Homo sapiens: one gene and its partners. The protein of the gene in region 1 purifies or fractionates together with the protein of each later gene. This does not show direct contact. Each region holds a gene or a part of one and is shown on either strand. Other genes may lie near its edges.

Evidence for each region.
Region 2: the proteins of SRP9 (region 1) and SDAD1 purify together in Homo sapiens (affinity purification with mass spectrometry; one large-scale study listed by BioGRID and IntAct). This does not show direct contact.
Region 3: the proteins of SRP9 (region 1) and GPC4 purify together in Homo sapiens (affinity purification with mass spectrometry; one large-scale study listed by BioGRID and IntAct). This does not show direct contact.
Region 4: the proteins of SRP9 (region 1) and DHX9 purify together in Homo sapiens (affinity purification with mass spectrometry; one large-scale study listed by BioGRID and IntAct). This does not show direct contact.
Region 5: the proteins of SRP9 (region 1) and LARP1 purify together in Homo sapiens (affinity purification with mass spectrometry; one large-scale study listed by BioGRID and IntAct). This does not show direct contact.
Region 6: the proteins of SRP9 (region 1) and SART3 purify together in Homo sapiens (affinity purification with mass spectrometry; one large-scale study listed by BioGRID and IntAct). This does not show direct contact.
Region 7: the proteins of SRP9 (region 1) and ANP32B purify together in Homo sapiens (affinity purification with mass spectrometry; one large-scale study listed by BioGRID and IntAct). This does not show direct contact.

What each region holds. Positions count from the first base shown.
Region 1 is NC_000001.11:225,784,326-225,787,825, reverse strand, and holds part of SRP9 (signal recognition particle 9 kDa protein), read right to left. Parts: intron 965-3,500; coding exon of another isoform or gene 857-964; exon of another isoform or gene 841-856; intron 1-840. UniProt on the Homo sapiens protein: Component of the signal recognition particle (SRP) complex, a ribonucleoprotein complex that mediates the cotranslational targeting of secretory and membrane proteins to the endoplasmic reticulum (ER).
Region 2 is NC_000004.12:75,988,146-75,992,433, reverse strand, and holds the start of SDAD1 (protein SDA1 homolog), read left to right. Parts: upstream 1-1,488; 5' UTR 1,489-1,592; coding exon 1,593-1,682; exon of another isoform or gene 1,683-1,723; coding exon of another isoform or gene 1,724-1,738; intron 1,739-4,288.
Region 3 is NC_000023.11:133,405,490-133,408,989, reverse strand, and holds part of GPC4 (glypican-4 precursor), read left to right. Parts: intron 1-3,500. UniProt on the Homo sapiens protein: Cell surface proteoglycan that bears heparan sulfate. May be involved in the development of kidney tubules and of the central nervous system.
Region 4 is NC_000001.11:182,842,347-182,845,846, forward strand, and holds part of DHX9 (ATP-dependent RNA helicase A), read left to right. Parts: intron 1-198; 5' UTR 199-220; coding exon 221-331; intron 332-947; coding exon 948-1,088; intron 1,089-3,500. UniProt on the Homo sapiens protein: Multifunctional ATP-dependent nucleic acid helicase that unwinds DNA and RNA in a 3' to 5' direction and that plays important roles in many processes, such as DNA replication, transcriptional activation, post-transcriptional RNA regulation, mRNA translation and RNA-mediated gene silencing.
Region 5 is NC_000005.10:154,761,877-154,765,376, forward strand, and holds part of LARP1 (la-related protein 1), read left to right. Parts: intron 1-3,500. UniProt on the Homo sapiens protein: RNA-binding protein that regulates the translation of specific target mRNA species downstream of the mTORC1 complex, in function of growth signals and nutrient availability.
Region 6 is NC_000012.12:108,533,674-108,537,173, reverse strand, and holds part of SART3 (spliceosome associated factor 3, U4/U6 recycling protein), read left to right. Parts: intron 1-388; coding exon 389-466; intron 467-601; coding exon 602-660; intron 661-1,705; coding exon 1,706-1,815; intron 1,816-3,500. UniProt on the Homo sapiens protein: U6 snRNP-binding protein that functions as a recycling factor of the splicing machinery. Promotes the initial reassembly of U4 and U6 snRNPs following their ejection from the spliceosome during its maturation.
Region 7 is NC_000009.12:98,010,841-98,014,340, reverse strand, and holds part of ANP32B (acidic leucine-rich nuclear phosphoprotein 32 family member B), read right to left. Parts: intron 3,071-3,500; coding exon 2,952-3,070; intron 1,921-2,951; coding exon 1,869-1,920; intron 1-1,868. UniProt on the Homo sapiens protein: Multifunctional protein that is involved in the regulation of many processes including cell proliferation, apoptosis, cell cycle progression or transcription.

The DNA of each region.
Region 1 (3,500 bases):
GGCCATATTAATCTTCATCATCAAAATTTTAGCACATGTCCTATGAGAGAATGTACATACCTTCTCACTGAAATTTCTGACAGAAAAAGATTTTAGGTCCATAGAAGACAGTATTCTAAATCAATTATGGGATTAGAAAAATGATGGATACATGGGATTATAAAAAAGTCGAAGTTAACATGGATCCTTAATTATATTCAATCATTAACAGGGCAAAAAGAGCCATCAATTGGAGATAAGGCCTTTTGTATTAAAATTCGTTCTGCATTTATTCCCTTATTTTATTTTTTTTGAGACCGAGTCTAGTTCTGTCACCCAGGCTAGAGTGCAGTGGCACAATCTTGGCTCATTGCAACCTCTGCCTCCCAGTCCCAGGTTCAAGCGATTCTCCTGCCTCAGCCTCCCAAGTAGCTGAGATTACAGGCACCCACCACCATGCTAATATTTGTATTTTTAGTAGAGACGGGGTTTCACTGTGTTGGTCAGGCTGGTCTCGAACTCCTGACCTCATGATCCGCCCACCTCAGCCTCCCAAAATGCTGGGATTACCAGCACGAGCCACCGCGCCCGGCCTATTCCCCTATTTTTAAGACAGGACATAGGGGTTTTTCTTCAGCAAGTATACCTAACCACTCTGTGACAATCACAATTAAAATTTTTCTGTGTGGAATGTCAAGATTTAAGAAGTACTTAGTGGTTCACACCCATAATCCCAGTGGTTTGGGAGGCTAAGGCAGAAAGATGGCTTGAGTCCAGGAGTTCCAGATCAACCTGGGCAATATAATGAGACCCTGTCTTGACAAAAAAATTTAAAAATTAGCTGAGTGTGGTGGTGCACACCTGTAGTCTCTGCTATTCAGGAGGCTGAAGCAAGAGGACCGCTTGAGCCCAGGAGGTCGAGGATGCAGTGAGCTATGATCATGCCACTGCACTGCAGCCTGAGCAATAGAGCAAGACACTGTCTCTAAAAAAAAAAAAAAGCAATCAACCAACCAATCAACAAACAAAAGAATACATGTACTCAATCTACCAAGGGTAAGCACTCATGTTAGATACTTTCATATATTTTTTTACTATCACTATGATACTTTACAGATGAGGAAATTGAGACCAGAAGGCTAAATTTTTGGCCTAAACTTTTCCAAGGCCAAAATGCTAGTAAATGACTAAGCTAGGATTCACATCTCTTCAATCTATGTCTAGTATACTACATCTCGATTCACTCTTCCTTTTCCACATGTTTAGCTACTCACTACATTCAATTGGTTCTTAGAAGACATGGTAATCACTAAAAGGTCTAACTTCATGCAGTCTCATCATAATGGAACCCTGAACACAAATACAATATATGACCAAAGACAAAAAGTGATTTTTAAAATCACTCTATAAAATTTTCAAAAGAACTAACTATTTAAAAAATGTTTACTGAGTGCTCTCTGGGTCAAGACATCATAGTAGGCAATGGAAATAAGACATGTAAGAATATTACTGATCTATCTCTATTGTCTTGAAGGGCAGTCTATTAAAAAGACAAATGTGATAAAAGAATTGTGATACAGCACAAAAAGCCAAAATGAAAAGCAAGAAATGAAGTAATCCTCAAGTTGGGTTTTGAAAGATAAGCAGCAGTCTGGCCACATTAGGGGTGGAGGTGGGATTCAATATTGCAAAGGAGGAAACAGAATGTTTGAAAGCACTGAGGCCTAACACATCACAGCACATTAAAGGAGCTCTTACATAATACAGAAATGACAGAGATTAGAGAGGATGCAAGGGTGGAGTTTAAAGGTTTCTAAGCAAGGGAGTAACAATCAAATTAGCCTTTCAGAAATCACTCTGGGGCTGGGCGTGGTGGATCACACCTGTAATCCCAGCACTTTGGGAGGCCGAGGTGGGTGGATCGCTTGAGGTCAGGAGTTCAACTCCAGCCGCCTGGGCGACATGGTGAAATCTCATCTCTACTAAAAATACAAAAATTAGCTGGGTGTGGTGGTGCCCACCTGTAATCCCACCTACTTGGGAGGCCGAGGCAGGAGAATTGCTTGAACCCGGAAGGCAGAGGTTGCAGTGAGCCAAGAATGAACCATTGCACTCCAGTCTGGGTAATAGAGCCAGACTCCTTCTTTAAAAAAAAAAAAAAAAAAAAGTCCAGGCACAGTGGCTCACGCCTATAATCCCAACACTTTGGGAGGCCAAGGCGGGCAGATCACGAGGTCAGGAGTTCGAGACCATCCTGGCTAACAGGGTGAAACCCCGTCTCTACTAAAAATACACAAAATTAGCCAGGCGTGGTGGCGGGCGCCTGTAGTCCCAGCTACTCAGGAGGCTGAGGCAGGAGAATGGCGTGAACCCAGGAGGCAGTTTGCAGTGAGCCGAGATTGCGCCACTGCACTCCAGCCTGGGCGACAGAGCGAGACTCCATCAAACAAACAAACAAATAAAAAGAAAAGGCCAGGCGCAGTGGCTCACCCCTGTAATCTCAGCACTTTCAGAGGCCAAGGTGGGTGGATCATGAGGTAAAGAGATGGAGACCATCCTGGTCAACATGGTGAAAACCCCGTCTCTACTAAAAAAAAAAAAAAAAAAAATTAGTTGGGCGTGGTGGTGCACGGCTGTAGTCCCAGCTACTCAGGAGGCTGAGGCAGGAGAATCACTTGAACCCAGGAGGTGGAGGCTGCAGTGAGCAGAGATCGCCCACTGCACTCCAGCCTTGCAACAGAGCGAGACTCCGTCTAAATAGAAATCACTCTGGGCTGTGCACTGTGGCCCATGTGTGTAATCCCAGCAACTTGGGAGGCTGAGTGGGAGGACTGCTTGAAGCCAGGAGTTCAAGACCAGCCTGGGCAACATAGCGATATCCTGTCTCTAAAAAAATTTTTTTAATTAAAAAAAATCCCCAGATTTCTGACCACGTGGAAAATAATGCAACTAAAGGTAGGAAGGTAGGAACAGAAGAAGCAGCTAGTTTTTTTGTTTGTTTTTTTGAGATGGAGTCTTGCTGTGTCACCCAGGCTGGAGTGCAGTGGCACGATCTCTGCTCACTGCAAGCTCCACCTCCCAGGTTTATGCCATTCTCCTGCCTCAGCCTCCTGAGTAGCTGGGACTACAGGTGCCCGCCACCATGCCTGGCTAATTTTTTTGTATTTTTAGTAGAGATGGGGTTTCACCGTGTTAGCCAGGATGGTCTCGATCTCCTGACCTTGTGATCTGCCCACTTGACCTTCCAAAATGCTGGGATTACAGGCATGAGAAAGAGCTAGTTTAAGAACAGATGATAGGCCGGGTGGGGTGGTTCATGCCTGTAATCCCACCATTTTCGGAGGCCGAGACGGGTGGATCACGAGGTCAGGAGATCCAGATCATCCTGGCCAACATGGTGAAACCCTGTCTCTACTAAAAATACAAAAAAAAATTAGCTGGGCGTGGTGGTGGGTGCCTGTAGTCCCAGCTACTCGGGAGGCTGAGGCAGAAGAATGGCATGAACCCGGGAGGCAGAGCTT
Region 2 (4,288 bases), on another chromosome or scaffold:
AATTTAAATCTATGCTTTTTAAAAAAGATTTATTGCTGACATTTATTTCTTAACTTCACAGGTAACTGATTTGATAATTAATAAATAAGTCATTCTCCAAAAGCAGCTGAATAACATGGTTTGTGAAGCATTCTTTATTTTGTGTGCAGGTGTGATTACAGAGTTGTTTTGTTTGGGGCTCATTTTATCATCGTCACAGATGAGGTTGGCGTTCTATAAAATTGCTTTGGTTAAGCAGAACCCTATTGTCTGGCTATTTTGCCAGACCAGCAACCAGCTACCAGCTGTTAGGCTATGTTTTTTCTCATGTAGTTACAATCAAGACTGTCTAGATTGAAATCTCATCTTCCTCACAGGCTATGAATTGAGGCAGTCAACTTCCCTGAGCTTGTTTCCTCTTCTGTAAAATGTAGATAACAATAGCACCTATTTTAGAGGGTTGTTCTGAGGATTAAATAAGTTAATACAAGTGCTTGGAATAGTGCCTGGCACAGGGTGGGTAATTAGGTTTTTTTTTCTCTCTCTCTAATTCACAACACCCTACCTCATTCATTCAACCCTTATTGATTTTTTACACCTTGAGATTGTAGAAATGTATTCTCCTCTTCGAATTACCAGGATCTGAATTAAAAACTCTGACTGAGGAGTGCTTACAAAGCTTATAACGATGGTTGAATTTTAACGATTAATTGCATTTATTAATGGTCAACATGATCACATTTTATCCAGCCCTCTTTTCCCTTGTATGGGTCACGCTAAGTTGAAACAACCAAAACCAAAATAAAAACATATCTAAAATCATACACATTAACTTATATGACCCTCGTTGCTCTTTTTTCCTCCTAAGAGGGAATAGTGTTATCTAGCGCCACGGTTCTTTTCAGTTTTGTTTTGTTTTGTTTTGTTTTTTATACGGAGTTTCGCTCTTGTTGCCCAGGCTGGAGTGAAATGGTGCAATCTCGGCTTACCGCAATCTCCGCCTCCTGTGTTCAAGCGATTCTCCTGCCTCAGCCTCCCTAGTAGCTGGGATTACAGGCATGCGCCACCACGCTCGACTAATTTTGTAATTTTAGTAGAGACGGGGTTTCTCCATGTGGATCAGGCCGGTCTCGAACTCCCGACCTCAGGCCCGCCTTGGCCTCCCAAAGTGCTGGGATTACAGGCGTCAGTTTCTAATTTTAGACTGCGGGATTAAAAATAAACGATTAATCCTCATTTATGTGCTTCATATGGGTGTCGGAATGACGATACATGCTAACACACGTGAAAAAATTTACATTTCAGATCCTTTCAGAAACGCAAGGCAATATTAAGTAGTAGCATATGCCCAAGGGCGAGGGGCGGGTCGGCGGTGGCTGGCTCTCCAATACACCACAGAGTATTTTGGCAACGAGAGTAATTTTGACACTCTGAGGCTTCCGTAGCATAGCTCGCTTTAGGAACCGCTAAGGTGTCGCCTGCCTAGAGTCCCATGCGCTATTTCCGGTCATACCCGGAAACACGAGTCCAAGCTGCAGCTGGCAGGGATTGCGGGGTGCCGGCCGTCTGAGTTTTTTTAAAACTGCTCGCCGCGAAGTCTGTCTGCAGCCAAAATGTCCAACAGAAACAACAACAAGCTTCCCAGCAACCTGCCGCAGTTACAGAATCTAATCAAGCGAGACCCGCCGGCCTACATCGAGGAGGTGGGAGTGCGGCGCGGCAGACGCTAGAGGCCGGATAGTGGATGGTTGAGACGCCGGTGCGGGAAAGCATGGAGTGGGGCTGGGATCCAGGCTCGCCGCCTATTCTTCTGTTAGGTTCAGGGGTCCCTCCAGAGGAGAGAAGGGGTTGGGGACGGGACATGCCTTAGGGTTCGTTCCCCACCTCTTGAAAATCTGTTGCCCCTTTGGATTTTCTACCTGCCCTGCTGCCGCTGAAACACCTTTAAAACCTCATTTTGTTTTAAGATATTTTTCTTCGTCCGCACGGAAGTGGAGAGAGAAATGGGCCGCACCCAACCACCAACTTCCACGCGGATTTCTCAGCCTCTTTTCAGAAATCCCAAACTTGAATTAGTCGGTAACCTTTGATGAATCGTATGTTAGAATGCTTTCGATTGACGTCCGTTTCTGAGAGCAGGCTGTGTACCCTGGACTGTGCCAGGAAAGGGGGGGGGGGGGTTTCTCAAGCACAACGGACAGACTCGGGAGCTTAGTATATTTAGTTAAGCCAGGATTCAAACTTACCGGAGACTGGCATGACTCGGATGTCAGAATTTGCTTCGGGAAAAGATTAGGTTGAAAAATTAGGCCCTCATTGTGATGGGCTTTGTGTACTGACCTCATGTAAGTTGTGAACATTAGGGGTGTTTGAACCAAGTACCGACAAAACGAAAGTGGTTTTTGATATATTAATCTGACAGGTGCTTCCTTCAGACACTCATTTATCAGACGGGCATTAAACAGGTATCTCTGCTAGGCATTTGCTGCAATTACATGTTTGTGCTTCTACCAGATTGTGATTTGTTCAGTGGCTAACACAATTACTTATTTTTTCATTGCCCTTCTCACTTCCCTCCTCCCCTAAATTTTCACATATATGTATTTTATGAGTGCTTTTTAACACATGGCAATCTCAGTGGCTTAGGTCACCAGTAGAGAAAGCCTCTCCAAGGATCAAGGTAGTGGAAATAAAGAGTAGGAAACAAGTACAAGAAGTTAAGTAACATAGGCAAGGCTTTGAGATGCTTAAAGCATTGTATAGCCATTCGCAAAGAAAGTGGTAAGTTGAGAGTCTATATAATTCCGTTAGATAACTCCTGCTGCTGACTGTTGTTAACCAGTTGTGTAACCGAAGCAGGTTAATCGCTGAGCCTATGTGGGTATTTTAATATGTAAGAAGGGGGTAATAACTACTTCTTTAATTCACTTAAGTATATATGCAAAATCACATATAACTACTGTGTGTTGTTATTCTAGGTAGGCGTTGGGGTACAGTAATGAATAAGACAGATAAGAAAGCATTCTTCTCTTGGACTTACATTCAAGTGAGTGTAGACTTATTATGGTAGAGATTATGAAGAAAATAAAACTGGATGGGAATAGGTTAGAATTGGAGGCTTCTGATTTAGACCCCGTAAACAGGGAAGGTGGCTCTGCAATGATGATATTGAGCCAGGCAGGTAAACATCATTTTAGGTACAAGGAATAGAAAGTGCAGAAGCTACTGGTGGAAAAAAAGCAGAGAAGAAGCCAGTGTAGCTAAAGTGTAGTCAGCATAGAAGAGGGCAGTGGAAGATGATGTAGGAAATGCAGGCAGGGGTCAGCTTATTCAGAGCCTCTTAGGCCCTGTTAACGAGTTTAGATTTCACTCTGAGTGCCTCGGGGAGTGATTGAAGAGTTTTAAGCAGGAGAGTGACATGATCTGACATATTTTTTTTAAGAATTTACTCTGGAAGTTACATGTGGAATGGCTTGTAGAGGAGCAACACTGGAAGCAGGGTAACTAATATAATGGATCTCAGAATAACCAAGCAAGGGATTGTGGTGTCATTGGAATTATGGGCAAAGATTCGTGCTGTTCTACGTGGAGGTAGAGCTAGTAGAGCCTTGGGATTTCTGGTGGAGTGGATGTGGGGGATAAGGAAAAAAGAAGGAATGAAGGATCACCCAGGTTTTTTATTTATATGTCTAGGTAGATGATAGTGCCATTTCCTGAAGTTCGTTCATTTGACAAATACTGTTGATTACCTGCTATATGTAAGGCACAATGCTGGGCCCTGGGACTACATAATATTGAGCTGTACCGATAAAAATTCTATGCTCATTAAATGACATTCTAGTAGGGGGTGATATACAGTAACAAATAATATAGTATGTTAAATAATGAAAAGTGCTGTGAAAAAAAGACAATAGGAAAGTACTTATGTATGTTGGGGGTGAGATGGGTATTGCAGTTTTAAATTGGATAGTTAGGGAAGGTCTTCTTGAGATAGTAATCTTTGAGTGAAAACCTGAAGGACATGAGGGAGAGCTGTGCATATGTTTAGGAAGAATGATCTAGGCAGAAGGAACAGAAGGTATAAAGACCTTGGGGTAGGTATGCCTGGTAGATTTCAGGAACATAAAGGCCAGTGTGGCTCCAAATAGGGAATGAGGAAAGGGGGTGAATTTGGGATTCTACCTCCCAATGAGATGGAAGCCTTTACAGGGTTTTGAGCAGAAGAATACATGAACCACCCTATATGAGAACAAGATCACCGTTACTTGAGGATAGACTGTATGTAGGAGGGCAAAGATAGAAGCAGAGA
Region 3 (3,500 bases), on another chromosome or scaffold:
AGAGACGTGGTTTCACCATGTTGGCCAGGCTGGTCTAGAACTCCTGACCTCAAATGATCCAGCCTCCCAAAGTGCTGGAATTACAGGCATGAACCACCATTCCAGGCCTGTATCTAAACACTTTGAAGTGAAATAAATTTAAAGTAAATATGCATATGTTGGTATAGCTTGGAGAACGTTTTTATTCTTTTGGGGGAGTACTTGTCTTTACCACTTCATTAATAACTGAATGCTTATAGGATTTTTTTTTATTTTTTGAAACAGAGTTTCGCTCTTGTTGCCCAGGCTGGAGTGCAATGGCACGATCTCAGCTCTCCGCAACCTCCGCCTCTGGTTCAAGCCATTCTCCTGCCTCAGCCTCCAGAGTAGCTGGGATTACAGGCATGCACCACCATGCCCGGCTAATTTTGTATTTTTAGTAGAGATGGAGTTTTTCCATGTTAGTCAGGCTGGTCTTGAACTCCTGACCTCAGGTGATCCACCTCGGCCTCCCAAAGTGCTGGGATTACAGGCATGAGCTACTGCACTGGCCAGGAATTTTTCAGAAAGATTCAGAATTGTTTTTCTTAATGCCTTGAGATACACTTCTTTAAAGAATGAACAGTTGAGACTGTTGTGATTAGGCAATTTAGAGCAAATTTACCACATGCAACTGTTCAGTGTGCATCAGTTACCTTTTAACATAAAAAAACTCAAGTTTATTGTCTTTACCAAGAAGAACACAAGCTTTGAAGGGTATCAGAATATTTTATATAAATAAACAGACATACTAAAATACAAACAGGTAAAAACTAGCATTTTCAAATCTACTTGGTTAAACATCTGTTGCTTACTATAGAGAACATGAAAGTGCAGAAAATGCATGAAGCGATTCCATCCTGGAGGTAATTTGAAATATTATGTTTAAGTTCTGATGCATTTAATTCAGCAATCTGGTGGGAGAGAAAAATCAAAGAGCTGCATCAGCCAGGTATTCAACTTTTGAGAAAGAAACTCTAACAAATGTTAGAAATTAGGGGAAAAAACTGAATGGGAGAGTTAAAAAAGTCAATAACCTCCAGGAAGCCTGGAAACTATGTAAAAACATCTTATTGGAAGCCCAGATAAATGTGTGCCAGACATCAAAAAGACCAACTGCTCGGGGGAAGAAAAAAAGAACCCGGCATGACTAACTGGCAGAGTAAAAGAGGCTGCTTCAGGGAAAAAGGCATCTTTCACAAAATACAAAGAGTTTAAGCCAGAAGAGGGAAGTCCACTAGGTTTCACAAGGCCCAGGTACAAACTAGAAATTAAGTGGGCTGACAGAGAATTGAAGTTGAATCTTGCAAGGGATTTGAAAGATGGCATGTGTGATAATAATGGTGAAAAGGGTGGGTTGAGTCCAACCTATCTAGGGAGAAGCAATATGGCTTCTTTAAGGGTAAACCATGCCTGATTGATCTCTCGGGATTCTTTGTGTGGAAAAAAAAGCATGAGGATACAGGGAAGCAGACATACATCATTTAGGTTTTTAAAAATTATGCAATGGGATTCTAAGGCAAAGAATATTCAGAAAATATATTTACTTTGAGATAGGTGGGGATAGTTGGACAGAGAGGGAGAGTGAGGGAGGGAAGAGACTCCACTGTTGTAGATGGAGTAGTTTACATGGAGAAGACATGGCTTGTTAGGATGAGTAGTTCTAGCCTAACTCTGGCAAATTTGTTGTCAAATACCTTTGGTGAGGTTCTTCCCTCTTTGAAAAATGGGGTGAAATTGAACCACCTGGCACCTGAGGAGCTTTTAAAATATACTAATGCCTGGGTACCACCCCATACCAATGAAATAATACTTTTTTCAGGAAGGACTAGGCCATGATGGATGGATGGATGGATGGATGAATGTGTGTGTGTGTGTGTGTATTTTTTTTTTTTGAGATGGAGTCTTGCTCTTGTCACCCAGGCTGGCGTGCAATGGCGTGATCTCAACTTACTACAGCCTCCACTTCCTGGGTTCAAGCGATCCTTCTGCCTCAGCTTCCCGAGTAGCTGGGACTACAGGTGTGTGCTGCCACACCCGGCTGGTTTTTTGTATGTTTAGTAGAGATGGGGATTCACCATGTTGGCCAGGCTGGTCTTGAACTCCTGGCCTCAAGTGATCCACCCACCTTGGCCTCCCAAAGTATTGGTATTACAGGCGTGAGCCACTGTGCCTGGCCCATGGTAGTTTTTTTTAATTTTCTTTTTTTTTTTTTTTTTTTTTTGAGACGAAGTCTTGCTCTGTTGCCAAGGCTGGGTGCAATGGCATGATCTCCACTCACTGCAACCTCCGCCTCCTGGGTTCAAGTGATTCTCCTGCTTCAGCCTCCTGAGTAGCTGGAATTACAGGAGCACACCACCACTCCTGGCTAATTTTTTATATTTTTAGTAGAGACAGGGTTTCACCATGTTGGCCAGGCTGGTCTCGAACTCCTGACCTCGTGATCCGCCCGCCTCGGCCTCCCAAAGTGCTGGGATTACAGGCGTGAGCCAGCATGCCTGGCCTAGGTCCCTTCCATCTCTGAGATTCTATTATTCTAAATTTTCCAATGAGATTCATCACAAAATGTTGTTTGAGATAAAGCCTTTAGTTTAGAATCAGTGCATGGTTGTTTTAATTTTGGCTAACTTGGATTTAAGAGAAAGGTGTGTCAAACATGGAGGAAAATGTTTTCAATCAAGATATAAGTGTGAACCACAACTGAGTGCTGCTTTGCTGCAGGTAGAGACATAAGACAAGCACAATGAGAATACTTTGGAAAGAATTAGAACAGAATCCAGCCTTGCTGTCATTTATTGATTAAGTGTCAACATGCTAGGTGATATTTCTTCCCTTTTTCTTTATTGGTAAAATTAAAATAAATCTCTTTATCCCTTACTTTAATGTCCTCTTTGCCATGTGTTTATTCTCTTCAAGTATCTTATCAAGAAATAGAAGTACAGTAAATCCCTAGGCTTCTAGCTGGTGCAACCATCCAGAACACAGCTGGGAATGTGGAAGTAAGCAGAAAAGCCAAATGATGGAAACAGCTGTCATAAAGCCCATGCATTCTATGTGGAGAAAAGGCCTTCAGAAATTTATTATCAGCAATCATTGAATGGCTCCTGTATCCAGAGCAGTATGCTGGGTGCAGGGGATTCCAAGAGGTGTCAAGCAGGAATCAAGCTTTTGAGGAACTTGCATTCAAATTAGGTAGATAGGGTTTATACGTGAGAAGATAAAATGCTTTGGTTATCCAGTTTCCCAGTCTATGGCAGATTAGAAGTAGCAAATGGTATTGGTTGGGGGCCGATGGGAATCACAGGAAGGGATCGTGTTAGAGGCAGGTAAGACTTGACATCTGGAAGAAGTGAGAGAGGACAGTTGGAGGGTGACCAGAAGCTGAATGGGAGAGCCAGAACTTGCTGATCTTGGCAGTTTGAGATCTCCTAGAATGGGCGAATGCTCAAAGCCACCTTTGTAACCATAATCATCGAGGGCAC
Region 4 (3,500 bases), about 43 Mb from region 1:
GTTCAAATCATACCGTTTTGTATCCTTTTTCTTACAACATATAAACGTTCCAATTATGTCGTTAAAATTTATGGGGAGTCTTAATAGCAACATGATAGAATATCCTATGTTTAACCCAGATTCAGTAATCTAGATAATTGGTTCCTCCCAGTTTTTGCTATTATAAATGCTGTTTTTAACTGACTTTTGTTTTCTTAGATCTGAAGAAGACACTTGAATCATGGGTGACGTTAAAAATTTTCTGTATGCCTGGTGTGGCAAAAGGAAGATGACCCCATCCTATGAAATTAGAGCAGTGGGGAACAAAAACAGGCAGAAATTCATGTGTGAGGTACTGAAGAATACAGTTTGCATTTATGTGATTTATGAGGTTCATTTTGGGGTTAAAAGAAAAATGTTTTCTGTTTGGAGATGTTAATGTGTTGCACATTAGGAAACGACAGTTCTTTATTGTGACTTGACTGCTATTGTAAATCATTTTCAAGTCAGCATTACTTTTAAAACAATCTGACAGGTAAATTATTCTAATTAGAGCCTATATCTTCCTCAGCTTCCTCAGTACCAGTAGTGGGGATGGGAAAAGTTGGATCAACTGTTTGCAGTTTTATAAGCACGTTTAGAAAGCAGAGCAATTCTTGATTGCTTCAAATCAAAGTGCTTAAATACAAATGGAGAGCTTGTTCATGGATATTACAGAATCAGATTTTAATGTGAACCTTCTGTTATATGAGAAAAAAAAATCTGAGCCACTTAAATTATTTTTGGATACAACACAATTTAAGCTTTTTCAGTAGCTCATGCATTCTCTTATTTTTATATTTATATTTATAGAGTATATTTCCTAAAGTTAGCTGTTTGTTGTCTCTTAATGGACTACTGAATTACGACTTTTTAAAATCTCAGAATTACCCAGGTCAGTCTCTTAGTACTTTTTTTTTTTTTTAAAGGTTCAGGTGGAAGGTTATAATTACACTGGCATGGGAAATTCCACCAATAAAAAAGATGCACAAAGCAATGCTGCCAGAGACTTTGTTAACTATTTGGTTCGAATAAATGAAATAAAGAGTGAAGAAGTTCCAGCTTTTGGGGTAAGTACCTATGGCGAAGCACTTGAGATGTATGTTGTAAAGTTGTACAAACTCAATATGCGTAAGAGACTCAAGATAGTAATTTTTCACTGTTTTCAGATATATCGTGTTTCGTAATGAAATTTGGCATCTTGTTTTGTCTCAGCACTGGACAAAATTTCTGAAGATGTGGATTGCATCCTTATTATATACCTGTCTTAGGGGCTTGAGAAATTCCATTAATCTTTGTGTCTTATGGCTTTATTTCATGTATTTATACACCAGAAATTTCAGAGTCTGTTATGTTCCATTCATTACCAATGATAATACTTTAAATAAAATAGAAAAATCAGTAATATTTTAGACATGTTTGCTCCCATTGACACTCCCCCTGCCCCGTAAGCGATGAGGTCTTGCTCTGTTACCCAAGCTAGAATGCAGTGACACAACCATAGCTCACTGCAGCCTCAAACTCTTGGGCTCAAGCAGTCCTTCATCCTTAACCCCCTTAGTAGCTGGACTACAGGTGCATGCCACCACTTCTGGCAAGTTCTTTGTGTTTTGAGGCAGAGTCTTGCACTGTCGCCCAGGCTGGAGTGATCTCGGCTCACTGCAGCCTCCGCCTCCTGGGTTCAAGCGATTCTCCTGCCTCAGCCTCCGAGTAGCTGGGATTACAGGCACGCTCCATGATGCCCAGCTATTTTTTATGTTTTTAGTAGAGATAGGGTTTCACCATGTTGGCCAGGCTGGTCTTGAACTCCTGACCTCAAGTGATCCATCCACCCACTTCCGTCTTCCAAAGTGCTGGGATCACAGGCATGGGCCACTGCACCTGGCTGACATGTCCTTATATAACAAAATAGTATTTTATGCAATGGAGTATTTTTGTGTTTTTTATGTCATGATTATCTTAATTATATTACGTAAGTATGCAACAAATACCTCTGTCTAGTAGGTTGTTTTGGGGGATTTTTGTTTTGTTTTTCTGCCTTTTTTCTTTTTGGGGCTCAATCAAACTCTTGGCCTCAAGCCATCCTCCCACTTCAGCTCTTCCCCAGTAGCTGGGACTGTGGGTGTGTGCCGCTACACTAGGCTCTAGTAGTTTTTAAGAAATAAGGTTTTTTTTGTTTGTTTGTTTGTTTTGTTTTTTAAGACGGAGTCTTGCTCTGTTACCTAGGGTGGAGTGCAGTGCTCACTGCAACCTCCACCTCCTGGGTTCAAGCAGTTCTCCTGCCTCAGTCTCCTAAGTAGCTGGGATTACAGGCACCTGCCAACATGCCCAGCTAAATTTTGTATTTTTAGTAGAGACGGGGTTTTACCATTTTTTGCCAGGCTGGTCTCGAACTCCTGACCTCGGCCTCCCAAAGTGCTGGGATTACAGGTGGGAGCTACGGCGCCTGGCCCACGCCCAGCTAATTTTTGTGTTTTTAGTAGAGACAGATTTTCACCATGTTGGCCAGGCTTGTCTTGAACTCCTGACCTCAAGTGATCCGCCCCCTTCAGCCTCCCAAAGTGCTGGGATTACAGGTGTGAGCCACTGTGCCCAGCCTGTCTATGCCAGTTTTAACAGGGTCCTGTTACTGAATTTTTGTATTCTGCCTTGTTTATGACAGTATTCTGACTCGTTATGAAAGAAATCTTATTTCCTTCCATTCCTTTGACTAAGAACTCGATAGACTTACTTTCCGGTAGATTAACTGCTGGGTAATTATAGTATCTTACAGTCTTTAATTTTATTGGTTTGCCTATCTGTAAAATGAAGGGATTGGGCAAGATCATCTTAAAAATGCCTTCTGGTAGAGAAAACAGTTTTGCAAATGTCTTTTACATGTTTGAAGTCTCCCTCTATTCTTTATCTTTTAGGCTCTTCTCTATGGTCTTGTAGATCTGCTAGTGACAAATTCTCTTATTCTCTTTCTGAAAATATTTTTATTTTACCTTCTTTAAGAATATTTTCACTGGATGTAGAATTCTGGGGTACCAGATATTTTTTTCCCTCTTTTGGTATGTAAGTGGAAAAAAAAAAAAACAATTTTCCTCTTCTCTCATACCACAACAATCAACAAAGAAGATTTCTGTGACTAAATGTGGGGTGGAGGTGGGGGACTTTTTCCACACACCCCAAGCAAGCAATCAGTTCTGCAGCAGTCACTAGCAGGGTATCCTCCAGTTCAACTCTGACACTACCTGGAGATAGCGTCAGACTCCACAGGGTGAGGACTCAGTCCCACAAGACTCCCCAGCCCCTTCAGACACCACTTGCAAGTCTGGGCCTCTAGAACTTCTGACTGACTAGCTTCAAGTTATGGTTTTCATGACTGCCTCTTTGGGGTCAGTTAATTTGCTAGTGTGGCTCACAGAACTCAGGAAAACCTACATTTACCAGTTTATTATAAAGAATACTACAAAATACAGTTGGTGAAATAAGTAGGG
Region 5 (3,500 bases), on another chromosome or scaffold:
GGCTAATCCCGGTGCTGAGGTTGTTTAGAGCGTCAAATTGCTGTTGAGTATGGGGCAGTACAGTTCATGAATTGAAAAAGTCCTGCTGGGCGCGGGGGTTCACACCTGTAATCCTAGCACTTTGGAAGGCCGAGGCGGGCGGATCATGAGGTCAGGAGTTTTAAGACCAATCTGGCCAGCATAGTGAAACCTCGTCTCTACTAAAAATACAAAAAAATTAGCCAGGCATGGTGGCGTGTGCCTGTAGTCCCAGCTACTCAGGAGGCTGAGGCAGGAGAATTGCTCGAACCGGGGAGGCGGAGGTTGCAGTGAGCTGAGATCGTGCCACTGCACTCCAGCCTGGGTGACAAGAGCAAGACTCCATCTCAAAACAAAACAAAAAAACCAAAAAAACCTCCTACACAGAGGTAAGATGTAAGTTTTTTTTTTTATTTCAGAAGATTGCATTCCAAAGCCAGATATTGGTAATTACTCACTCTGAGGGTTTATCTGTGCCTTTCCGGAACTGAGTGGATAATCAGGAGTTAGCTGAATTTTCAACAAGGGCTATTTGTGGTAGTTACCAGGGGCAAGTGGCCAACTTCACATGGCTAATAGCCTGGGATGTCTTCCTGAAGGATGTTCCCAGAATCAAGGACAGTCCTAGTGTGGCACCTTTTTTTTCTTGGCTGAACCTTTAGACTGGCAAAGCCCTAGGTGTGGGGAGGGGAGGATTGTGGGTCTTCATAGATGAATTTTGTAAAGCCAGCTTGGTAGATCTGTCATATATGGCATGGGACTTCTCCATCTCAGTTTGATGTGCTGTTAGTAAACCTAGATGATTCCTCCATGACAGGCCTTGTTTACAGGCCACTTTGTAATTATTCTCCAAACTAGTGGTAACCACCTTACTCTCAAGACATACATTCCAGCCACTCAAAGTTGCCTTTTTCTTTGCCTTAGAATGGAGTTGCAAGCTTCTCAGAGGAAATTAAGTCCCACAGTAGCCAGGAGCCATCTAGATAAATGATCTGATAGAGATAGGGCTCTGTATGGTTTTTGCTCTGCTTTTCACTTAAACTAATTTATTTAGGCTCTTGATAATTCAGAGATAAGTAATAGTACTGGAATAGTCACCATTTACTGCATTTACTGAGTGTCTCACCTGTTCTAGCCCAAGTGATCTGCTGAGCAGATGCTTTTTTTTTTTTTTTTTTCTTTTTTTGAGAAAGAGTTTCTCTCGTTGCCCAGGCTGGAGTGCAGTGCACGATCTCAGCTCACCGCAACCTATGCCTCCTGGGTTCAAGCGATTCTCCTGCCTCAGCCTCCCAAGTAGCTGGGATTACAGCCATGCACCACCACGCCTGGCTAATTTTTTGTATTTTTACTAGAGATGGGGTTTCTTCATGTTGGTCGGGTTGGTCTCGAACTCCTGACCTCAGGTGATCTGCCCACTTCGGCCTCCCAAAGTGCTGGGATTACAGATGTTAGCCACCGCGCCTGGCCCAGCAGATGCTCTTTTTATTCCCACTTCACAGATGAGGAAAGTGAGACTCAGGAGACGTTTAGCAACTCTGTCCTTCTAATTGCTCAGACTAAAGACCTTAAGATCATCCTTGCCACCTCTGTTTTTTTTTTTCTGGCTGGTTGCAGTGGCTCACACCTGTAATCCCAGCACTTTGGGAGACCGAGATGGTAGGATCATGTGAGCCCAGGAGTTCAAGGCTGCAAGTGAGCTGTGATTGTGCCACAGTACTCCAGCCTGGGCGACAGAGTGAGACCCTGTCTCTAAAAAGTAAATGTCTTTTTGTGACCCCACATGTAATGTACTAGTACATCCTTTGACAATTAAACACTGTGTCCTGGCCGGGCACAGTGCCTCATGCCTGTAACCCCAGCACTTTGGGTGGGAGGCCAAGGTGGGCAGATTGCTTGAGCCTGGAAGTTTGAGACCAGTCTGGGTAACATAGGGATACCCCATCTCTTACAAAAAAAAAAAAGTACAAAAATTAGTCGAGCATGGTGGTGCGTGCCTGTAATCCCAGCTCCTGGGGAGGCTGAGGTGGGAGGATCACTTGAGCCTTGGGAGGTAAAGGCTGCAGTGAAAGATGAGTGTGTCACTGCACTCCAGCCTGGGCAACAGAGCAGGACTGTCTCAAAAAGAAAAAGCTGCCTGGGTGCGGTGGTTCACGCCTGTAATCCCAGCACTTTGGGAGGCCGAGGCAGGTGGATCACCTGAGGTCAGGAGTTCAAGACCAGCCTGGCCAACACAGTGAAACCCTGCCTCTACTAAACATACAAAAATTAGCTGGGCGTGGTGGCATGCGCCTGTAATCCCCAGCTACTCGGGAGGCTGAGGCAGGAGAATCGCTTGAACCTGGGAGGCAGAGGTTGCAGTGAGCTGAGATTGCACCATTGCACTCCAGCCTGGGTGACAGAGCAAGACTTCATCTCAAAAAAAAAAAAAAAGCTGCATCCAGGTTGGGTGTGGGGGCTTATACCAGTCATCCCAGCACTTTGGGAGGATCACTTGAGCGCAGGAGTTCAAGACCAGCCTGGGCAACATAGTGAGAGACCCCATCTCTTTAAAAAAAAATTAACTGGGTGTGGTGGTGCATTCCTGTGGTCTGAGCTACTCTGGAGGCTGAGGTGGAAGGATTGCTTGAGCCCAGGAGGTCGAGGCTATATTGAGCAAGAGCCACTGCACTCCAGCCTAGGCAATGCAGTGAGACCATGTCTCAAAAAAAAAAAAAAAAAAAAAAAAACTGGCTGGGCGTAGTGGCTCACACCTGTAATCCCAGCACTTTGGGAGGCCGAGGCGGGAGGGTCAGTTGAAGTCAGGAGTTTGAGACCAGCCTAGCCAACATGGTGAAACCCAGTCTCTACCAAAAATACAAAAAGTAGCTGGGCGTCATCGTGCACACCTGTAATCCCAGCTACTTGGGAAGCTGAGGCACAAGAATCGCTTGAACCTGGGAGGCAGAGGTTGCAGTGAGCCGAGATCATGCCACTGCTCTCCAGCCTGGGCAACAGAGCAAGACTCCATCACAAAAAAAAAAAAAAAGAAACAACAAAAAAAACCTATGTCCAGATCTAAATGCTTGTACCGCCTCGTCTCTTGCTGGCCTGGACCATACATCATCATTTCTCATGTAGATTTTTGCAGCAGCCTCTTAACTGGTCTCCTATCACTCCTACTTAAAGCCCTCTGGTAACTTCTTAGCAGAGTAAAATTCAGAGTCCTTAGAGTGTTCTCTAAGACCGCACTTGATCTGGTCTCTGTCCACCTAACCTCTGACCTCATCTTTCATCACTTGCCCCTTCTTCACTCATTCCCTTCCAGCATCAGTCCTCACTTCCTGAAACATGTCATGTACTCTTTGCTTTGGGTCTTATGTTCTGTAGTGCTCTTCCCGCAGATCACTGTGGTGGAAATGCCTTCCCAGACCACCCTATATAGACTAGCAAGTCCTGACCTTGGATTCCCTCTCTCCATCCCTCTTACCCTGCTTCATTTTTCT
Region 6 (3,500 bases), on another chromosome or scaffold:
TACCTCTGTGGGATCCTTTGCCCCTTCATGTCCCCCCGAAAACAACCAGAAAACCCCTAACTTGTACTTGCACACTCATGTCAGCTGTCACCTCATACAGGTAGCCTTTAGCCATTCTCTTGTTTGCCTGTGTCACCCCAGCTGGGGGAGACTCCCCCCCACAGCACCCTGTGTTTGCCTTTTTCACCACGCTGTCCATGCTCTATTCTGTTCAAATTTCTTTCTCCCCAACTATGTGATGAGGGCAGGAATTGGCAATTTTATTTCTGTGTCCCTTGCATGATGCCAGGTACATAGTGGGTCTCCAGGCAGTTTCAGCATAGGATAAAAAATAAAACAAAGCCAGGCTATGTGGTTTCCTAAAGCCTTTTTTTGCACTTTCCGTTAGACTCCAGTAAAGAGCTGGAGGAGTTGAGGGCCGCCTTTACTCGTGCCTTGGAGTATCTGAAGCAGGAGGTGGAAGAGCGTAAGTATGCCCCAGCCTGTGGTTTTGCCCAGTTGTATTTCCTTGTCTGTACTATTTCCTGGTTGATGTACCTTTTCAGCCAGCGACTATCTGTCTCCAAGTTCCTTTCTAATTTTACTAATTCTGTTTTTGAAGGTTTCAATGAGAGTGGTGATCCAAGCTGCGTGATTATGCAGAACTGGGCTAGGATTGAGGTAAATGTTTTTGACACATCTAGCACTTTCATCCATCATTGTTTAATAGCATCCTATTAAACTTTAATTAAAATTGAGTCAGAATCCCAGATAATGGCCTAAGCTCTATAAGGATTTATGTTATTACCTAGGTAATGGTCTAGGCTCCACAAGGATTCATGTTATTTACCTAGCTTGACATATATTTGTAAATATGTTGGTGAAAATATTAGCTCCCAGCTAGAAGTTGTGCAGTAAATGTTTAGATGCTAGGTATTCACTCGTTTACTTCTGTCTCTGCCTCTTTGCTTCATTTGTGAGAGCACAGTGAGCGTGTACTGTTTGTCAGCACTGTACTAGGTGCTGTGGGAATAAGACAGATAAAATTCCTTTGCTAGTAAGGCTTCTATCTAATGTAGAAGACAGATGATTTGACAAGTAATTAGAGGATATGATGACTTGAATGTCATTACTGGGTCAGGGACACCAAGGTCAGTAAGACACGGAACCTCCCTTGATCAGCAGGTAGGATTGTAACAATTCTAATCATGTTTTCTCCTCGGAGGGAGCGTCAGATAGAAGAAACTAACATTTGTCAGGTAGTTTTTATATGGGATGCTTATCTTTTAACCATTTTAAAGATGAGAAAACTGAGAATTACAGGTTAAGTAATTTGCCCAAGTCACAGTTTGTAAGTATTAGTAGCAGAGTGTGCATTTAATACTAGATCAGTCTTTTTTTTTTTTTTAACATTGTCTCTCAAACACTTGTAGTTAAGCTTGATAAAAATAAAAAACGTGACTATCTAGTACTGTCGAGTAAGTACCGTGCGCTCCCTCTCTCGGTTCTCAGGAAACATAGGTAGATTAGCTTGTGGCTGCAGAAAGGCTCAAGTGTTTGGGCTGGGTCGTTTACCACTGGAGGGAGGCCTGGGGAATGCCCAGGGACATCTGTAACACTAATAGTTGTGGGGTGCTTTTTATGTGTGTCTGTTGGAAGTGTGTTGTATGATGGGTGTCGACGTCATAAGGTTCAGGTCTCCTAACAGCCTGCTGATGCACTTTAGGCTCGACTGTGCAATAACATGCAGAAAGCTCGGGAACTCTGGGATAGCATCATGACCAGAGGAAATGCCAAGTACGCCAACATGTGGCTAGAGTATTACAACCTGGAAAGGTAACTGATCTCGGGGTGGGGAGGGAGGCAGTGCTTGTCAGCTGTGCACCTGTCTTCACTCCTGGCTGACTCCTACCAGCTTGGACTAGCTCCTTAGAACTGGGCTGTTTTCTTTCATTCTGTCTCTTTCAGTAGTGGGTACATTTTTAATGGGCAGGGCTAGAGAACCAGACATGATATTTTGTGCCTGGAACTCTTATAGCCATGCATTTCTTTTAATTTGTTTTTGTCTTGATTTTTGGGCATGATATTTTATTTGACCTTTTGGAGCTATTTGTTTTTTATATTTGCTTTTATAGAAAAGTAGAAAATACTAAAAAGCTAAGAGAAAAAAAACTCAAATTACTGACCCAGTCATAACCATGACCCATTCTTTGAGACTTTTCTATGTTTAAATTTTTTTGTAATGAAAATGCAATTATAGCATGCATGTGTTACAAGCCTTTAAAACTATTTGAACGAAATAAGATAGGCCTAACAATATTTATAACATGGGGAAAACATAAAGAATGTGACCAACTTTTCAGTCTGTCTTGAACGTTGTTCATTGCATAACATTGCTACATTGCTGGGTTTTCTTTTTTGAAGATTTTTTCCCTATTTAAAAAACACTGTGTGCCCAAATTAGAATATTTACAAAAATATGTGATAGAAAGCGACAGTTTCTTTTCTTTTTTCGGGGGAGGTGGGGAGTCTCACTCTGTTGCCCAGGCTGAAGTGCAGTGGTGCAGTCTCAGCTGCAACCTTGCCTCCTGGGTTCGAGCAATTCTTCTGCCTCAGCCTCTTGAGTAGCTGGGATTACAGGCGTGCACCACCACACCTGGCTAATTTTTGGATTTTTTTTTTTTTTTAGAAGAGGCACAGTTTCACCATGTAGGTCATGCTGACCTCAAGTGATCCTCCTACCTCGGCCTCCCAAAGTGTAGGAATTACAGGCATGAGCCACCATATCCGGCTAAACGTGACAGTTTCTTACAATCCCACCCCAGAGATAACCACTGTTAAAGCTTGTTGAATATCCCCCTAGATCTGCAGTTCACAATTTTTTTGGTCTCAGGATCCATTTTCCACTCTTAAAATTGGAGGATCCCAAAAAACTTTTATGTATGTGAGTTATATCTATTGATATTTATAATTTATAAATTGAGAAATCTAAAAAACATTTTAATTTATTTAAATATAACAAATTATCTAACATTAATATCTTTTTTGAGCAGTGACTGTTTTCCAGACCCCAAAATAATATAGTGAGAAAAGTGGCAGTGTTTTCTATTTTTGCAAATATATTTATTTGCACATTATTCTGACCTAGGAGAAGACAGCTAAATTCTCATGTCTGTTACTGATTCTGTCTGTTGTGATCTGTTGTTTTCATTGAAGAGGTTAGGAAAGAAAGGTATTTTAGAAGCATTTTCAGATAATTGTGGGTATTCTTCTTTCATACATATTATAGCAAAACTTCAGTGTTGCATGTGGAATCTGAAACCATATTGACAGAGTCTGTTACAGTAATACCCATTTGTCTATTTTATCTTTTACTTGATGCCACAATTCTACGACATTATTTGGAAAAATCCCAATTCACTAAATCATGCAGCTCTTCCAATGTTGACATATTTCATCCTATAGTATTAAAAAATCGTATTTGTTCATATCTGTATTGATCTTAGTTGAAAAGTATTTTA
Region 7 (3,500 bases), on another chromosome or scaffold:
CGCCTCCCGGGTTCATGCCGTTCTCCTGACTCAGCCTCCCGAGTAGCTGGGACTACAGGCGCCTGCCACCACACCCGGCTAATTTTTTTGTATTTTTAGTAGAGACGGGGTTTCACCGTGTTAGCCAGGATGGTCTCGATCTCCTGACCTCATGATCCACCCGCCTCGGCCTCCCAATCATACAGGTTCTTAAAGGCAGTGACCAGGTCCTAACCAGGGTAATATCTAGTGTAAATGTAATTGAGAGCTTGACAAAGTGGATGCTGAGAAAACATCAGCCAACAGCACAGTGAACACCTGATTTTCTGAGACACAACCATGAGACTTTTTATTTGAGACAAGGTCTCCCTCTGTCACTCAGGCTGGAGTGCGGTGGCACTATCATAGCCTCACTGCAACTTCAAGCAGTCCTCCCACCTCAGCTTCCCAAGTAGCTGGGACTATAGGTGTGCACCACCATGTGCAGCTAACTTTTTTTTTTTTTTGAGACAGAGTCTTGCTCTGTTGTCCAGGCTGCAGTGCAGTGGCATGACCTCAGCTCACTGAATCTCTGCCTCCTGGGTTTGAGTGCGTGCCACCACGCCTGACTAATTTTTTAATTTTTAGTAGAGACAGGATTTTACCATGTTGGCCAGGCTGCTCTCGAACTCCTGACCTCAGGTGATCCACCTGCCTCGGCCTCCTAAAGTGCTGAGATAACAGGCGTGAGTCACCACACCCGGTCCCAGCTAACTTTTTAATTTTCTGTACAGACAGGGTCTATGTTGTCCAGGCTGGCATACTTTCAACAGTATTAAATAAGTAACAGCTATTTCATTTGTCTTGGTTGTAGTGGGGAAAGGACTAACACTGACAAAACTGGGAAACTGCTACATCTATTTATATATCCTGAAAATGATGGTTCAATTATTAAAGCCTTTTTTTAAAAAATGAAAGAACTCCAAACACAGAAACTCACACTTGACAGTAAACCAAATGACTGGTCCTAAAAACACATTTAAAACATGGGGAACAGGCTAGGCATGGTGGCTCACACCTGTAATCCGAGTAATTTGGGAGGCCGAGGTGGGTGGATCACTTGAATTCAGCCAGGAATTCAAGACCAGGCTGGCCAACATGGCAAAACCCTGTCTCTACTAAAAATACAAAAATTAGCCAAGTGTGGTGGTGCATGCCTGTAATCCCAGCTACTGAGGAGGCTGAGGCAGAGAATCCCTTGAACCTGGGAGGTGGAGGCTGCAGTGAGCTTAGATTGCACCAGTGAACTCCAGACTGGGCGACAGAGCAAGACTCCATCTCAAGAAAACAACAGGCCGGGTGTGGTGGCTCACGCCTGTAATCCCGGCACTTTGGGAGGCTGAGGCGGGTGGACCACGAGGTCAGGAGATTGAGACCATCCTGGCTAACACGGTGAAACCCCGTCTCTACTAAAAATGCAAACAATTAGCTGGGCGTGGTGGCAGGCGCCTGTAGCCCCAGCTACTCTGGAGGCTGAGGCAGGAGAATGGCTTGAACCTAGGAGGCGGAACTTGCAGTGAGCCGAGATCGTGCCACTGCACTCCAGCCTGGGCAACAGAGCGAGATTCCGTCTCAAAACACCACCACCACCACCACCACCCCGAAAAAAACCCCATGAGGACTGAAGACCAACAGGACCCTTGCCATGAGACAGGAATAACTGCTGTAGCAGCAGGGAGCCTGCACCAGCACAGACACACTGATGGGACGATAGAAACGAGAATGTGAATGTGTAAACCACCAGAGCCAAGAGTATTTTATTTTCTTCTCAGTGGTATCATATTCTAAATAATGGATGTTTTTCTCTAATTTTTAACTGAGAATGATCAAAATGCATGCATTAGGCCCACCTTCATCCTCATCCTCATCTTCATCTTCTTCATCAAGTCCAAATTCTTCTTCCTAAAGAATAGCAAACAGCATAACATTAAATTAATTCTGCCAAATTGAAAAGTGCATATAGTACAAATTCTGCCAAACTAAGAAGTACAAATAAATGCAACAATATCAATCAAGCAGGAAACTGTAATGTTATTTTTATCTACTTTGATGTACCAAGACCCACTGATTTTCCTTAACGAGCTTTATAATTTTTCTAAGAAAAATTTTTTTTAGAAGCAAGCAGTTCATTTGCTAGATGTTTAATTAGTATATAACTCTGGATAATTCAAGAAAACATCTTAAAATCTCAAATTTCAAAACAGATTTAGACAAAAATTTCTATATCCCATTCATATACAAAGCTTCTTTCAGAACTTTAATGTCAATCATACACCTAATGACATCACACAAACCCCAAGCCTTATTTTTATACTACAAAAGAGGATGCGTTTTGTTAACAACTAATGTTGTCTGCCTGTTTCCCAAACCTCTTTGAGGGTCAAAGTCAAGACACTGTTTTCTCCTGCCCTCGTATAGCATTTATTTCCTCAGGGATCCTCTATTATTGGGTATTTCATAAACCAGACTGTGCTCTTTCAGGGCAGGACCACAATCTCATTTCATTTTGTACTCCCAACTCTTTAACATAGCAGATATATATTTACTGAATTACACTGAATATACAAGAAAAAGTTTAGACTTGGTAAACATAAACTTCCCTACAATTCAATGAAGGAACAGACATACCATCAATTCTCAACATGTCCAGTTTTCTCACCACACTGAATACTCAATTCATTCCTTCCCCCAGAGGGCCAGAACTTACCTTGCACAGCCAGGAACCGTACTAGTTTGAGTTCAGTAGGCATTCTATTTAGTAGTTATTTAAAGCCAGACAAACACTAAATTAACCAGATTCATATTGTAAATGTATTCACAGGTATACTAATTTCTTCAAAAGGTGTTTTTTCTTTTCTTTTGTCATCTTTTTGAAACCCCCACTTTTGTTGTAATTACAAATAGGAAGCAGGGTAGAAAACAGCTGCACTGACCTCCTCACTGACTTCATCGTCGTCCTCATCCCCTTCTACATCTTCATCTTCATCATCTTCTTCATCAAACTCCTCTTCTTCACCATCCTCATCGTCCTCGTCTTCCTCATCTTCTCCTTCTAAAAATAGTCCAAAAGGGATTCATTAAATATCCTCGACGCTCCACAGGGGACAAAGTGTTGAGGATCTGTGGGCTGGCTCACAGAACAAATGCTGTAAGGCCACGAACTGCAGTCACTTTCTTTCTACTATGTGCTACAGCTCAGTCCCTTTGTCCGATAGAGTCCCATAAAATCAGAGAGCTAGAAGTCCTGGTAGATAAGACAAACACTATAATTCTCGCTGATGAAATGATACAATGGCTAAGATTTGCTTCAAAATTATATGGAGTGGGGAAGAAGGTAAGGGTATGCAGGAATAAAATAAGATCAGCTATGACCAATAATTGCTGAAGCTGAGTGATAAGAACATGGGGGTTCATTTTGCTATTATTTTTACCCTTTGTCACTGTCTGAAATTTTTGACAGTAAAAAGTTAAAAAAAAAAAAA